Linked DNA regions of Homo sapiens: region 1 is linked to region 2. A link means that fine-mapping ties the variant in region 2 to the expression of a gene that starts in the linked region. Tissue or cell type: whole blood. Region 2 holds a variant in brackets; the other region holds the start of a gene. All regions are shown on one strand. Distances are from middle to middle.

The links. PIP is the estimated chance that this variant, and not a neighbour inherited with it, causes the effect.
Region 1: it holds the start of STARD10, and the variant in region 2 is fine-mapped to the expression of STARD10 in whole blood (TOPMed, PIP above 0.99).

The regions. Positions count from the first base shown.
Region 1 is chr11:72,789,367-72,797,366 of GRCh38, forward strand. STARD10 (StAR related lipid transfer domain containing 10) reads right to left here and starts at 4,681. Exons shown (of 7, transcript NM_006645.3): 1 at 3,509-4,681. RefSeq lists enhancers at 2,806-3,305, 4,437-5,006.
Region 2 is chr11:72,743,918-72,752,172 of GRCh38, forward strand. The region is part of intron 1 of ARAP1 (ArfGAP with RhoGAP domain, ankyrin repeat and PH domain 1); the gene reads right to left. Among named protein-coding and RNA genes, the nearest start is that of ARAP1, 4.4 kb to the right of the region's middle. RefSeq lists enhancers at 5,353-5,512, 8,172-8,255. The variant A/G (reference allele first, on the strand shown) is at 3,234.

The DNA.
Region 1 (8,000 bases), 45 kb after region 2:
GTCTGGAGGCAATGATTTCTTTCTCCTGAGTGGGGTTAACCTAGAGCCTGGAGGGTTGAGAGGGAAGAGAGGTAGCTGAAATGACATCTTGTCCCCCTCCCTCACCCCCAATCCAAGCAGAGCTGCGAAAGGCCTGGTGTCAATGGCATTTGCTCCTTGCACCCACACAGCCCCTCCTCAATGTCTGACAGCTGCATGCTGGGACAGCAGTGAGGCACAGGGGGTCTGGCCATGTCTAGCCAGAGGGCAGCATGGCACTGAGAGGTCCACATTCCAGGGGCTGGCTCCCAGGACCGCGTGAGGACTGGTGTGGGTGGAATTCTCTAGGGGCTCTGTCTGAGAATGGGGCTGAAGGCTCTGCCCTGGGTCAAGGTTCACCCTAGGTTCCAAACCCACACCTGGAACAGGCCTGCAGCAGGCTCAGCTTCCATGGGCACTGCTATCTGGGGACTCCTGCCAACCACTGCTCCCTGCCGTGAGTCCCTGGTGTTCTGGGTCAGCAGGTATCTCCACAGGCTTCCCGGGGGAAGACTGCCTCTTTCAGCACCTTCTAAATTTAGGGCTTGGGCTCCGTGACTCACTCCTCTGAGCCTGCTTTGCTCCCCTCCTCCAGGAATGTGCTCCCACAGGATCTGCATCCTCTGCTGCCTCAGACTGATGAAGGCCCCACAATCCTGCAGCAGCCACACGCACACCAAGGAGAGCTCTCGGCCCCACTCGCCCCAGACCGGCCCTGGGTTTCTCCCGACTGGGCCCTGTACTCTCCTTCCCTTACCTCTCCATCTTCCCAACCCTCCCTGCAAACCACAGCCCACCCAGGTGGCTACATTGGGAGCTGGCTCCAAGCATGACTATGAGGGTAGTGGGGGGAGGAGAGGTGGAATCAAGCCCTGCCCCCTCCCATGTGGCTGTGGGCAGAGCCCTCACCTGAAGTCAGGAGGCTTGAGTTCTGGACCAGACTCACGCTTACCTCGCCGTGGGGCTCTCAGTGAGTTCTGGCCTCTCTGGGATTCTCTTTCCTCCTCTATAAATAAGGAGTTTGAACCAGACTTCCATTAGGGAAGCTTGAAACAGAGCTAAAGTGAGCACAGGGCCAGGCCTCCAACTACTAACAAGGTGGGCCGGGGGGGTATCTGATGTCAGGCCCTGTCTCCCACCCAGGCGCCCCTCTTCCCCCAGCCCCTGCTCCATGAGGGGAAACGAGGACCAAGAACCTGCTGTTAGCATTCATGGACTTCTGCCATGCAGGGAGGAAGCTCATGCACAACCCCACACCCTGAAAGGGCCAGAAAGAGCCCAGGATCTTGTTCTGGTCTGACTGTCCAGGGCTGTAATGTGTAGCTTTGAGTAAAAACCATCTTCACTCTTGGCCTCAGGTTGTGGGGAAGAGAATCATGTGCATGTGCAGGTGTAAACACTCGAGACATTTCTCCCCTGCCAGCTTCCCAGAACTGGAGGAGGAGATGGGGACATGGGTCCTCCCTTGACTTTCAGAAATGCAGGCACCCAGGGCAGGGTGTGGAGGTATCTAGAGATGGTCAGACCTGGGGCTGCTGCTTCTCTGCCCCTGCATTGACTTTTGGAGAACCCCATCTGCGGCCTGCCTCGACCTGTGTTCACAAGTAACAACAGTGGCTAACAGTTACTGAATGCTTACCACGGGCCTGGTGCTGGTCTATGCACTTAACAGGTCTTAACTCATTTAATTTATAGGTAAACCTTGATAACAGGTCTTAACTCATTTAATTTATAGGTAAACATTGAGACAGTCCCAAGGCTTAGCATCCCCACTTTACAGACAATTTGAGGCTCAGAGAGGGGCAGGGACTCACCTGGGGTCACAGTCTTAAATCACTGGGAGGGCTGGTTAAAAGCCAGGTCTGAGGGCAATCCTGGCTTCTATTTGCTACCCCAAGGTAGTCCTTCTCGGAGTATACATTAGACACTAAATAAATGTTTGATGAAGATGTTTGACTACTGCCATGTAATGGAAAGATCCCTGTCGTAGTCCAGTTCTACCCCAACTCCTTGTGTGTCCTTAATAGAGTCCTTTTCTGGCCGGGCGTGGTGACTCATGCCCATAATCCCAGCACTTTGGGAGGCCGCGAATGGATCACCTGAGGTCAGGAGTTTGAGACCAGCCTGGCCAACATGGTGAAACCGTGTCTCTACTAAAAATACAAAAAATTAGCCAGGCATGGTAGTGGGCACCTGTAATCCCAGCTACTTGGCAGGCTGAGGCAGGAGAATTGCTTAAACCCAGGAGGCGGAGGTTGCAGTGAGCCAAGATCGCACCCTTGCACTCCAGCCTGGGCAACAAGAGTGAAATTCCGTCTCAAAAAAAAAAAAAGAGGTCCTTTTCCTTCTTTAGCCTCAGTTTCTCTGGCTGAAAAACAGAAATGATAAGTGAAGGCCCAGATAATTAAATGCTTGGAGGTGAATCCAAGATCCACCTCCAGATAATTCCATTGAATTATCTTGGATACCTTTTTGTTGTTGTGTTTTGTTTTGTTTTGTTTTGTTTTGAGACGGAGTTTCGTTCTTGTTGCCCAGGCTGGAGTGCAATGGCACCATCTCGGCCCACGACAACCTCCGCCTCCTGGGTTCAAGCGATTCTTCTGCCTCAGCCTCCCGAGTAGCTGGGACTACCGGCATACACCACCACACCTGGCTAATTTTTTTTTTTTTTTTTTTTTTTTTTGAGACAGAGTCTTACTCTGTCAGCCAGGCTGGAGTACAGTGGCGCCATCTCGGCTCACCGCAAGCTCCGTCTCCCGGGTTCACGCCATTCTCCTGCCCCAGCCTCCCGAGTAGCTGGGACTACAGGTGCCCGCCACAACGCCCGGTTAATTTTTTTTTTTGTATTTTTAGTAGAGATGGAGTTTCTCCACTTTGGTCAGGCTGATCTCAACCCCCAACCTCAGGTGATCCGCTCGCCTCAGCCTCCCAAAGTGCTGAGATTACAGGCGTGAGCCACCGTGCCTGGCCTATCTGGGATATCTTGAAGGATCTTGGATTTCTATTTCTACATATACCTGCCTTTCATGACTTGCCTGGGGAGGCCCAATCTGTAATGAGACCTCAGGGTCTCCCAGCCCTTCCCCCAACCTACCCCCAAAACCTCTAAGAGCACTCTAGAGAGAATCAGCTGCATACAGCCCAGCTCCACCGCTCCAAGGGTCAGAGAAAAGTCCCCTTCCCTGGGGTTAGCTGCATGATCCTGCAGGTGCCATGGTGTGCCTAGGTGCCACCTCGCTTCACCTGGCTGGGGAGTGGCTCCTAGACCTCAGCTCAATGCGCATCACTTCCCCTTCTCATCAGCCAGGCCAGCCCAGGTATCACCTCCAGCTCCACTGCCCCCAGATGGAGTTACCTGAGTACCCAATTCCTCCCAAGCTCAGAAACAGTGTCCACTGCCTTCCCACTCCTTTCCATTCAGAGTCTGTCCCCTTAGTGCTGCCCCCTCATCTGTCACACCTGGGTTCTTTCCCTTACTTGGGCCACTGACCTGAGAAGCAGGGTCTGTACAGCTCCAGCAACACTCTCCTCTTCCTCCAGAATTCTCCAGATCCTCCTCAGCTTCTTGGCTCTGGTGCTCATCTCAACACAGCAGGGTCTTCCTCCATCAGGCCAAGGTGGGGGTAGGAGAAGAATTGGGAACAGGGACTCCCCTAGGTTCTCAGGGTACAGTCAGTCAATCTAAGCCTGTATCCAACAAAGACACTGACCCCTGGGGTACAAGGAAGGGCTCCAGGCCCAAAGGCAGGAGGATTAGGCTTTAGCTCTTGCTCACAGCCTGCTGAGACCTGGGGCAAGCCCCTGTCCCTCTTTGGGCCCTCAGGTTTGCAATTTGCAGAATGAGGAAATGGGTTCCTCAATCTACAATCACCTGACTATAATAATATTTTGCCTTTATATACCGCGTGGGTAAATTCCTGAAAGTAAACTAAGCTGTTTTCACCCCTGGATCTCATTTGATCCTCCCAACAGCCTGTTTGCATTTACAAATGAGAAAGCTCAGTTCCCTAAGGGAACAAAATTACCCAAAGTCACACAGCAAGCTGGAAGCAGAGCCTGGGTGCAGTCCTTGAATCCTGATCCTTCCCTGGTCCTTTACTCTCTATGATGCTGGAAATCTGCCTGACTTCCTCTAACCTGTTGTCCCATTTGTAAAAGGACTGTTGTGAGGACTGAATTAGGAGAGGCGATGAAGAGGGTCATTCCTTGTGAATCATAAAAGAAAGGACCACAGAACGATGACTGGACCGTTAGGTTACTATTTATTACGGTTATCTTCGCTCAGGCGCCCCCACGTGTCGATCCCGAGACTCTCGGCTTGCGCAGGCGCTCTTTGGTGTTTACAGCGGCCGCGAAGCCCCGCGTTTGCGCGTGCGCTTCCCGCCCGGGACCGCCCAGAGGTCCCGGACTAGGGGCGGACTAGGGGCCGCTCTGCCTCCCGCCCCCTAGTGGTTGTGGCCGCTCTGTCACCACGGCTCCCGGGGCCTCTGTCGGCTCCACTTTGGTTGAGACGTCTCCACAGCCCAACAACGGCGGCGATCTGAGGAGAGGCAGGAGAAAATACGGCGCGCTCGGCATCGTCCTTCTGACCGGGGACTCCAGCATCTCAGTCATCGCGTCACCAAGCCCCACGTGCAGGTTCTGGCATCCATCATGGCAAACTGGAGACCGCGGTGAATTCCACCGGAATGGCGCGCGCATTGCCACATGGGAACTGTAGTTCTTGGCTAGGACCTTTCTGGGGCTGGGCCGCTGGAAAAACTACATTTCTCAGGAGCTCAAGAGTCAGGCTGACAGAAAGGGGGCCCGCGGCATGTTGGGAGATGGAGTTTGGGGGGTTCGTGCTAGCAGGGAAACAGTGAAGCAATGGAGCCAAGTGTTCTGAGCCTGGGCCTGTGGGTTTGAGTTGGGCAGGAGTTACACAGTAGCTCTTATAAGAGAGGAGTAGCATTGTTGCGGCTTTTAGAAAGAATGCTACTTATTAGTTGTGTGATCTGAGCGATCAAGACAAATGCCCCTTTATCTTTTTTATTTATTTATTTTTTGAGACAGGGTCTCTGTCTGTCAGGCTGGAGTGCAGTGGCCCCAGAACTGCTGGCCTCCCGCCTCACCCTCCCAAAGTGCTGGGATTATAGGCGTGAGCCATCAGGCCTGGCCAGATGCCTTTTTATCAACTACGATGGACCTTAAGGTTAAGGTTAAGGAAACAAACGTTGCCTACCTCAGGGCTCAGCTGTCAGCTGGCATGGCAACTTCTTAAATTTCTACTGCTGCCAGAAAAACCACACTCTTACTAAACCCCTAGCAATAGGAGCTATCATGCAAATTGTCAGACTCTTCTTTACTGAGATTTACAACTCAGACCACTACAACGCTGATCGACAGAGGACAGGCCTTACAAACATTCTTTCCTGATAAGTAACTGCAGACCTCAGGCCAGTTTCAGCAAGCTCATAGAGACTGCACGCAAACTGTGTTTGTGTCCTATAGTCCACCTTATGATGCAAAGAACCAAATTCCACCTCACTTTAACGCAAAAACCCCATCCCAAAGTGAACATGGAACATATGTTACAGGTGTTTACCCATTGTGCATGCACTCACATCCCCTCATAAATATGTATAGCTTTTCCCCAAAACCTGCTGAATATGTATGATTATTGTGAAATACAGACCCTGTGAGTCATAAACCAGCCTAGGCCGGGAGTGGTGGCTCACGCCTGTAATCCCAGCACTTTGGGAGGCCAAGACGGGCGGATCACGAGGTCAGAAGATTGAGACCATCCTGGCTAACATGGTGAAACCCCGTCTCTACTAAAAATACAAAAAAATTAGCTGGGTGTGGTGGCGGGCGCCTGTAGTCCCAGCTACTCGGGAGGCTGAGGCAGGAGAATGGCATGAACCTGGGAGGTGGAGGTTGCAGTGAGCCGAGATCGCACCACTGCATTCCAGCCTGGGCGACTGAGCGAGACTCCGTCTCAAAAAACAAAAACAAAAAACAACCAGCCTGCCTTTTCCCTATACAAAGAGAGAGCACCTTTGGTACCTACAGGAGAGTGTCTCTTTTCAGTTTGCAAACTGATGTCGCTAATGAAACTGCCCTCTACTATTTAGGCATCCTGGTGTTCTAGAGGGTAGCAGTCTGCACCTCTCACAGGGCTTCCTCTTCCATCACTCCTCAGAGACTGTATTCACAGGGGTCACCTGTGTGTGAGATGCAGTTTGTCTTTTTTGGGGGGAGGGCAGGGGCTGTTCGTTTGTGGTTTTTTTTTTGTTTTTTGTTTTTTTTTTTGAGACGGAGACTTGCTCTGTCATCTAGGCTGGAGTGCAGTGGCATGATCTGGGGCTCACTGCCAGCTCCGCCTCCCGGGTTCATGCCATTCTCCTGCCTCAGCCTCCTGAGTAGCTGGGTCTACAGGCACCCGCCACCACGCCGGGCTAATTTTTTTTTTTGTATTTTTTTAGTAGAGATGGGGTTTCACCGTGTTAGCCAGGATGGTCTCGATCTCCTGACCGTGTGATCCGCCCACCTCGGCCTCCCAAAGTGCTGGGATTACAGGTGTGAGCCACTGTGCCCGGCCTTGTTTTTGTTTTTTTGAGACAGGGTCTCATTCTGTCACCCAGGCTGGAGGCAAGACCATTGTTCACTGCAGCCTGGACCTCCTGGGCTCAATCTATTCTCCCACCTCAACCTCCTGAGTAGCTGTGTTTATAGGCACACACCACTACACCTGGCTAATTTTTTTTTAATTCTCACTTTAATTATGTTTTGCCTTTTTTTTTTTTTTTTTTAGATGGAGTCTTATTCTGTCACCCTGGCTGGAGTGCAGTGGCTCACTGCAACGATCTTGGCTCACTGCAACCTCCGCCTGCCAGGTTCAAGGGATTCTTCTACTTCAGCCTCCCAAGTAGCTGAGATTACAGGCGCACACCAACACGCCCAGCTAATTTTTTTTTTTTTTTTGAGAAGGAGTCTTGCTCTGTCGCTCAGGCTGGAGTGCAGTGTCGTGATCTTGGCTCACTGCAACCTCTGCCTCCTGGGTTCAAGAGATTCTCCCGCCTCAGCCTCCTGAGTAGCTGGGATTACAGGTGCTCACCACCATGCCCAGCAATTTTTTTTTTTGTATTTTTTTAGAGACGAGGTTTCACGCTGTTGGTCAGGCTGGTCACGAACTCCCGATCTCATGATCCACCCACCTCGGCCTCCCAAAGTGCTGGGATTACAGGCGTGAGCCATCATGCCTGGCCTAATTTTTGTATTTTTAGTAGAGATGGGGTTTCACCATGGTGGCCAGGCTGGTCTCAAACTCCTGACCTCAGGTGATCCCCCTGCCTTGGCCTCCCAAAGTGCTGGAATTGCAGGTGTGAGCCACCGCGCCCAGCCTAATTTTTTGTGATTTTTGTAGAGACAGGGTTACGCCATGTTGCCCAGGCTGGTCTCAAACTCTTGAGTTCAAGGGATCCTCCTGCCTTGCCTCCCAAAGTGCTGGGATTACAGGCGTGAACCACCCCACCTGGTCTCAAACTCCTCTTTGGAAAAAAAGTATGGGCCACAGATTCTACTGTGGCTGTTGTCTCTTTCCCAGGTTTGTCCTCAACCATGGTAAAATAAATCTCTAAACTGATAGAGACCTGTCTCAGGTACTTTTTGGTTTACAAAATTGTATTAATAGGCCGGGTGCAGTGGCTCACGCTTGTAATCCCAACACTTTCAGAGGCCAAGGCATGGGGATCACTCGAGGCCAGGAGTTCGAGACCAGCCTGGCCAACATGGCGAAAACTTGTCTCTACCAAAAATACAAAAATTAGTCAGGCATGGTGGTGCACACCTGTAATCCCAGCTACTTAGGAGGCTGAGGCAGGAGAATCGCTTGAGCCTGGGAGGTGGAGGTTGCAGTGAGCCGAGATTGTGCCACTGCACTCTGCACTCTGGCCTGGGCAACAGAGTGAGACTCTGTCTCAAAAAAAAAAACAATTTTTTAA
Region 2 (8,255 bases):
GCTCAAGGGGCTTCCACCCACTGGCTCCTGCCACCTGCCCCTCCCCTCTGGTCTCATTTCCTCCACTCTCACGCTCCAACACCAGGGCTTCACCACCAAGCCTTTGCTTACCCGGTTCCCTTTGCCTAGAACATCTTTCTCTACCTCACCCTGCAAGCTCAAGTGCCACCTGCTTGAGGAAGCAGTCTCCGACTCCCACAGTCACAGCCCTGATCACACCAGATGTCACCATCTGTGACTGTGTGTGTCACCATCTGTGACTGTGTCTGTCACATACATACTCTCTTACCCCCAACCCTGGCTGGGTGCTTTCTCAGGCAAGACCAGGGATACCTGTGTCCCAAAGGTGGCACACAGTGAATATCTGTTGACTGAACGAACATTTCCCAATTTTACACATGGAGAGCCAGGCAAATGACAACTTGCCACTGCAAATCAGTGGCCAAAGTGTGGCCAGAACCCAGCCTCCAGCCTCCCAATACGAGGTGCCTCCCATTCCACCCAGTCCCACCCAGTTATAGTTCTACTATAGTTCTACTACCCAGCCCTGCCTTCTCGACCAGTACCACACAACCCAACCACCTGCTCCTTAGGCACTTAGGAACCACCAAATCAACCTTCCACATTTCTAGAAATGAAAGTAAGTCCCAGTCCCAGAAGGGGCAAGAACCTAGCCAGGGCCGCACGGGCAAGTCAGGACCATGACTCAGACCTTGGCCCCCGAGCCTGAGCTCAGATATCTCCAGCAGCCTGTTCCTTGGAAGAACTGGGGAGGGGGCCTCAGGCAACATTAGAGATACTGGAGCAACCTCCCTCCCCCGTCCCCCACATATCTCCAAGTGGGCTAAGCCAGTTCTGCACTGAGAAATGTGGGTTTTCAGGCCACAGGCAGTAGAGGCAAATGAGTGTCCTGGTTCATGTCCGTGGAACAGAAACTGGAACAGAACCACTAGACACCCCCTGGATCTTCAGACTCCCTAGGCTTAGCATGTCCATCTTTAGAGCCGAGAAAGAGACAGAAGGAAGAGAGCAGCCCCAGGCAGAGCAGGGGAGGGAAGCCTTTAGCCAAGGCTCTGGTGCCCCTTCACCAAGCACGGGAGCCGCTACCCCAGAGCTTTCCTGTTATCATCTGGAAAAGTGTCAGTCTCCAACTCTGCTCCTGGAGTGGAAAGGGGTGGCCCATTCTCCCTACCAGGCACACTGTGGCCACTGGGAACAAACTTGCATTTAAGCTGCAAACCCACACAGCAGCCCAAGTTTCTTTCTTTTTTTTTTTTTTTTTTTTTTTTGAGACGGAGTCTCGCTCTGTCGCCCAGGCTGGAGTGCAGTGGCTCGATCTCGGCTCACTGCAAGCTCCGCCTCACGGGTTCACGCCATTCTCCTGCCTCAGCCTCCTGAGTAGCTGGGACTACAGGCGCCTGCCACCACGTCCGGCTAATTTTTTTTTTTTTTTTTTTTTTGTATTTTTAGTAGAGACGGGGTTTCACCGTGTTAGCCAGGATGGTCTTGATCTCCTGACCTTGTGATCCGCCCGCGTCGGCCTCCCAAAGTGCTGGGATTACAGGCATGAGCCACCATGCCTGGCCACCCGAGAGACCAAGTTTCAAGTGGGTGAAAGCCTTGCCCAGCTCACACATCAAGGGGTGCAGAACTGGGCCCCTCCTACCCCAACCCATGAGGAATGCTGACCATACCCGCATGGAGTACCCACTGGAGGGATGTGCTGCAGGCTGGGGCTGGGAAGCACGACCCCGCCAGGAGCCTGGCCAGGCAATCTTCCAGGAGACACTCCTGTGTCCCAAAGGGCACCTGTGTCATGTCTCAAAGGTGGAGAGGACCAGGGGCCACACCTGGAATCTTGGCTGTCAGTGCCCTTCTCCTGGACGACTGCCTGGCTGGGCTCCTGGCTGGGTTGTGCTTCTCTGAGGGGCAGAGCTGCTCCTGACCCGCAGCCTCTTGAGTGCAGCTGCTGTGCCCACAGGCCCAGACAGCACGGGAAACAGCTAGGGATGGTAGCTCCTAAGTCCCTCAGTCAAGCCCAGCCTTCTATACCCTAAGGCAGAGCAATACGTCCCCTCAGGCTCTTGATCTCTGTCCACCACCTTCTGCAGAGGCTCCTGAGCCTGGCTCTGACCCTTCAAGGCTTAACCTTGGTCTGCTGAGCCACATCCCATACTGGCCCTGATGGCCAGCAGTGTGACCCTGACCTTGCTCTTTGAATTAGCCAGCCACCAGCCCTCCCCAACCCCGCCCTAGTGTCCACGGGAACAGCCCCACTACAACCCGTGAATGCAGAGGGGGCCTGGCCCATCTCTCCCCACTGCCAAGATAACTGAGTGCCCCTCTGCTACCACCTAGTCTGCAGGGTTCCCAGATTTCTTGAAGGGGAGACAGCCGGGTGTGTGCTGGGGGTGGTAGATGCAGGGAGCACCCGGCACCTGGAGACCAGCTGTGCCTCTGACCCACCAGCCAGCACTGAGAAACTCTCCAGGCCTCAGCCGTCTGCACCAACCAGGCTGAAGCACGGCACATGCCCCAGCCTCAACTTGGGGGTGACCCAGCCCAACTCGAGGCTTTTTAGGCTCTCGGAACCTAGAATTTCGGAAATTCAGAAGCTGGGACTCACAGGCACATAAAACCCTAAAATCCTCGAATCTCACCAGCCTAGAATCTCAGACTCAGAATCTTAAAATTCTAGCTGCTCAGTGTGAAGAGAAGGGAGTGGAGAGGAGTGGAACAGCCCCCTCCCCCCAACCCCCTCCCCCTCTCACCTGCCCAATTTGGTTGGTTTCTGTCCTGACCTGTTCACAACTGGGGGCTGGTAAGCCTGGGGGATCCCCAGAGTCGCTCCTTACTGCCCCTCCCTGAAGCTCCAGGGAAGTTGAGTACAGTAAAGATAAATGCCCAGCCAAAGGTCTCTCACTGAGCTAGAGGCCTGAGGCAGACCCTGGGTTCCTGACTCTGCACCTGACTACAGGCAGACCCCTGCCCTATGCATTATGGGTTGGGGAGGAGAGAGGGGGATGCCCAGGGTGGGGCAGTGCTCGCTGGGCCAGTAGGAAAGCTGGCAGGGGAGACCCTGGCACCTGGAAAGCCGAAATGCAGTGGCAGCTCAGCCTTGCTCCTGGTCTTCTGTCCCGGGGGTTAAGCCACCCCAGCACTGGCCTGGCCAGAAGGAGGCAGGGCCAGCCCAAGCTCCCCCAGGGCCACTGACAGCCAAGATTCCAGGTGTG[A/G]CCCCTGGTTCTGCCCTGAGAATGGGGATAGAGAAGTGGCCCTCCTGATCTTCTCCCACCCTCTTGCCTTTACCGTTGCCCTCACAACAGTGAGGATAAGGACAGGAGGGAGATTTTAACACATCCCCTCAGGGAGGACTCTCTGATGCCTTAATCTTCCTCTAGGCCCCTCTGACCCTGAGCCCCACACACTGGACCATAGGTGGTCCCTGTCTCTGGGCTCTAGAACCATGTTTCCAGGGTTGTTCAGTTACTGACACCCTGCTGTAGCAAAGCCCCAGCATCCCAACAGGATCAGGTTCCTGGTTTGGTCAGGGAGAAAAGACTTGGACCTTGTAACAAGGCAGTGTGGGCAGGGTCTGAAGGAAGCTCAACACTTCAGGAAGCCCCAACCAGGCCTCAAGCAGAGAGGTAGAATGCAGGCCTCAGAGCGCCCTGCCGGGGTTCCAGGGCCTGCTCTTGCTTTCCTTGGCTGAGAGACTGCAGGCAAGTCACCACCTTCTACTGGCCTTAGTCTCATCAGCAAAATGGGGTCTGGGAGAACCACTGTATGAACAAGAGCCAAGGTGGATAGGACAATAGCAGAAACCAAACCTCCACAAGACGCTTATCCCAGGGCCAGGGCCACGGGGGCTCAGGATTTGACGGCAATTAGTCCCGTCTGCAAGCAGGATACCCCTGTACCCTTGAGGGCACCCCAGATCCACAGTTGGTCACCAGCAATGTCACCTGACCAGGTGGCCCTCTAGTCTCTGCCTATCACTGACTAGGCATTCCCAGGGTAGGACTGGGTTTAGATCTCCTCTGTCTGCAATGCCTCCCAGTGCTTGTGGTTTTCACTGTGAAGCAATGGAAATGTAGATTCCCAGCTATTCTATGTAATGGATGATCTTGGACAAATCACTTAACTTCTTGGGACCTCAGTTTCCTCATGTGGAAAATGGGAATGGTGCCTACCTCAGAAGACTATTTTGAGGATTAAATGAATTCAGTATATAAAGTGCTTAGCACACTGCCTGGCACATAGTCAGCTTCCAAGAAACAATAGCTACTGCTACTATTATTACTACTATTAAATAATGATTTGTTGACTGGGCCCAGTGGCTCACACCTGTAATCCCAGCACTTTGGGAGGCCAAGGCGGGCGGATCACGAGGTCAGGAGTTCAAGATCATCCTGGCCAACATGGTGAAACCCCGTCTCTACTAAAAATACAAAAATTAGCTGGGTATGGTGGCGCGTGCCTGTAATCCCAGCTACTCGGGAGGCTGAGGCAGGAGAATCGCTTGAACCCGGGAGGCGGAGGTTGCAGTGAGCCGAGATCATGCCACCACACTTGAGCCTGGGCTACAGAGCAAGACTCCATCTCAAAAAAAAAAAAAATGATTTGTTATTGAACTGGTCACTTAACTCCACGTCCCCTCCCAGCCACTCTTTGACTGTCCCAGTGGCCTAGGACAGATAACCTAACTATGGGACAGGCTCTTCCCCTCTGTACTACGGCCCAAGGATGAGAAAAAGAGACATTCCACAGGAAGACCATGTGGAACACAATCCATGCATTGCCCCCCACCATCTTTCACATCTGGGGTCATCTGCCTCCAGGTGGGACTGTCCTCCTCAGATCCCTGGTTGGAATGCACATACAGTCTGGGGGCCTGGCCAGGGGTAGGGGAAGGTGGAAAAAATGTTATCTCTGATCAGAGCTGGGGACACTGGGGTTGATTCAGCGGCAGCCTCTGAGTTTTGTGGGGCATGCACATTGGATGGGGATGTCTCCCCACCCACCAAATCCTCATGCTGTTCAGAACCCTGGAGTGGCCACCCTTAGCACAGAACTCCTTTCTAAAACATAACACCTCTCTGCACAGGGCTGTGGAGGGTGCTGACTCTAACCTGCCCAAGACCAGAGAAAGAAATGAGAAGAGCTGCCCGAGGGACTGGACTCTGCTCCAGAGCGGGGACTGGGTCAGCTTAGCTGGGGTCACACACTGTTCAAGGCTGCCTCGGTCACCACCCGGGGAAAGCACCTCACTCAGCCCTGGGAGGTGCTCAAAGAGTAAGATCAAAGTGAAGTCAGACAAAGGAGGCAATGAACACCTGGGTCCTGACCCTGTCTCTCTACCACCCTCCCAATGTATTCTTACACAAGTTACTTAGCCTCTCTGTGCCTCAGTTTCCTTATCTGTAGAATGTCACCTAATTTCTTGGGTTATTGGCAGGGTGGAATTGGTTAATATGGATAAAACTTTACAACAGTGCTATAGGCATGTTTGCTGACCTCATTCTCACTGATGTTATTACTCAGCTTTCTCTAAGGCTGTTACTTCCACTATGATATTGGAGGGTGATGGTCGTCTTATGCTCTTATGCAATTATGTAAATCATTAGATGACAAATGTGCAGTGTCCAGCACACAGCAGGTACTCAACAAAGAATGTTCCCTCTCCCAGCCGGGAGTGGTGGCTCACACCTGTAACCCCAGCAGTTTGGGAGGCTGAGGCGGGCAGATCACGAGGTCAGGAGATTGAGACCATCCTGGCTAACAAGGTGAAACCCCGTCTCTACTAAAAATACAAAAATTAGCCAGGTGTGGTGGCGGGCGCCTGTAGTCCCAGCTACTCAGGAGGCTGAGGCAGGAGAATGGCATGAACCCAGAAGGTGGAGCCAAGATTGTGCCACTGCACTCCAGCCTGGGCAACAGAGCAAGACTCCGTCTCAAAAAAAAAAAAAAAGTTCCCTCTCCCTCTCTCCCCTTTCCCCCAGAGAGGCCAGACTAGGAGACAGAACCTGTCCTGACCCCCACCAGGGGTCTCTGTGTGATCCTACCCTCATCTCTAGCTCTTGGCCTCAGTTTCCCCATCTGTGAAAGAAGCTTTTAGGCCAAATGGTCTCTAAGTGTCCATGGCCATATCTGCTCCAGCCTGTCCCCCACCCTTGTTCCCTCCTTCCTTCCCCATTTCCTACTGCATCCCCTCCTGATGTGACAGAACCCTTGGGAGCCTGAAGCGGGGTAGAGGGGACAGCTGGTGAACAAGAATCACCAGCCCTCAAGGAGCCCAGGGCCCGGTCCAGGCCCCCAAGGGTTAAGACCTAGAGTGAGGGGCGGGGGGCCAGGGTCAGCGCTGGACAGGCGGGCCTGGAGCCCAGGGCCTGCCTCCCCTCCCCCTACCCTGGGAACAGAGGCCACTTGTTTGGGCAGTGGCGGGTGGCTTTGAGCTCAGCCAAGGGAGAGTTGGGTGGGAAGGAGAGAGGGCTCCGGAAAATGGAAGGGACTCCCCACCTCCAGCCGATGCCCTAGGCCTGGTCCACCACTAGCCCCCGATACTCTCAGACACCCCCCCAACCCCTCTAAACTGACCCCTTCCCCTGGGTTCTCTCTTTCTTTCATTCAAACTCTCAATGCTGGAGACAGGACTTAGCAGATAGGCCTATTGCCCCAGCATCTTAGCAGATAGGCCTGACTATTGCCCCAGCACCGTCTCTCTTTGGGGCATGAGGCCAGGGCTGATCACTCCATCCTGCAGATGGGGAAATGGAGGCTCTGAGGAATTTGGGGACTTGTAGAGTCACATAGTGATTGGTGGCTGCACAAGGACTCGGGGCCCCAGGTCCCATGATCCCCATGGCTCTGCAGGCCCCATCCCCACAGAGCTCCAAGGAGACCCTTCCTAAGCTGTGCCATTACACAAGACTGAAGGCTGGGCAGGAAGGAGGGGCAACAGCAGCCCATCTCTGAAACCTGAAGTCCCAAAGGACCTGGGGATTTGAATGGGGAGGAAGCTTCTAGAGGGTTGGGAGGAGGATTAACAATCTGTACAAAAAGCTGAGGCTGGATGTGTGAAGCATGGCTGGAGCCCAGGTGGTGGGGGTATAAAGCTGGGGTTGAGTAGGAGGCTTGAATGCAAAACAAAACCTGGGGGCCATCAGGGCTCTGGTGGCCTCTGCCCCCTCCACCTCATCAGTCACCGGTACTCTGCCTGGGACACCCCCTTCCTAAACTACTCCAATATGCAAGTAGCCAATGGGGAGGCAAGGTCCCCAGGCCCAGTCCTGACAATCCCCAGCCAGGAATGGGACACAGGATGAGTTCTCTCTACACCTCTGCCAGCCACACCCACCTTTCTGCCATTCCTCAGACACACCATCCAAATTCCTGACTTTGCACAAGCTACGCCCTCGCCTTTGGAGGGTCCTTATCCTTGTAAATTGCCACTTAACTGCCAAGCCCATTCCAGTCATCCCCTCCCCTGGGGCCTGCACCTGTCCACACCTGTCTTCAAGGCTCTGCTGGGCTCCTTCTACCCTGTGATGATCTTGCTGGGCAGTCTCTCCCAGCCTGGCCTCTGGGGACTCTCCGCGAACAGGTATCATGAGTGCCTCAGTCTGGGACCCTGGGACCCACCAAAGAGTCAAATCCTTCCGAGTACCCCCAGGTATCTGGCCCTGAAGCACCCCCCTCCCACCTATCTGGGATCAGGGAAGGCTCCCCAGGATATGGGATGTGGGGGAAGGGACGGTATATAGCAGAAACCACAGCGTGATGGCTTCTGGCCAGATTCCCCCCCTCCCCGCCGGCCCTGCACCAAACACCCATCCCCTGCCCCCAGGCTGCACCCTAAGCCTGCTCTCTCCAGGCCCAACCACCCCACTCCCAGCGTGACCCCATTCCCTGAGCACATACTTTCTTTCACCAGCAACTGGGCCAGGTAGGGGCTCTGGGGAAGCCATGCCCCATTTACTGGTGGGGAATTGAGATGCAGAGACCGGAAGTAGCCTGCCCAAGGTCACTGGAGCCCCAGGCCCAGGGCATAGGGTCGTACAGATCTCCAGAAATGTAAAGGTCTCAGCGGCCAACGAGGTGGGAGCCTTCACTTCACAGATGGGAACCCCAAGGCGCCCGAGGGCGGCTGACTCCAGAGACCCTTCACGCCAAAGGGCTACGGGCTGGAAGCCCCGGGTCCCGCTGGTTCACCCCCCTTCCCTACCGTCTCTGGCCCGCTGGCTTATCCTCAAGAGGCG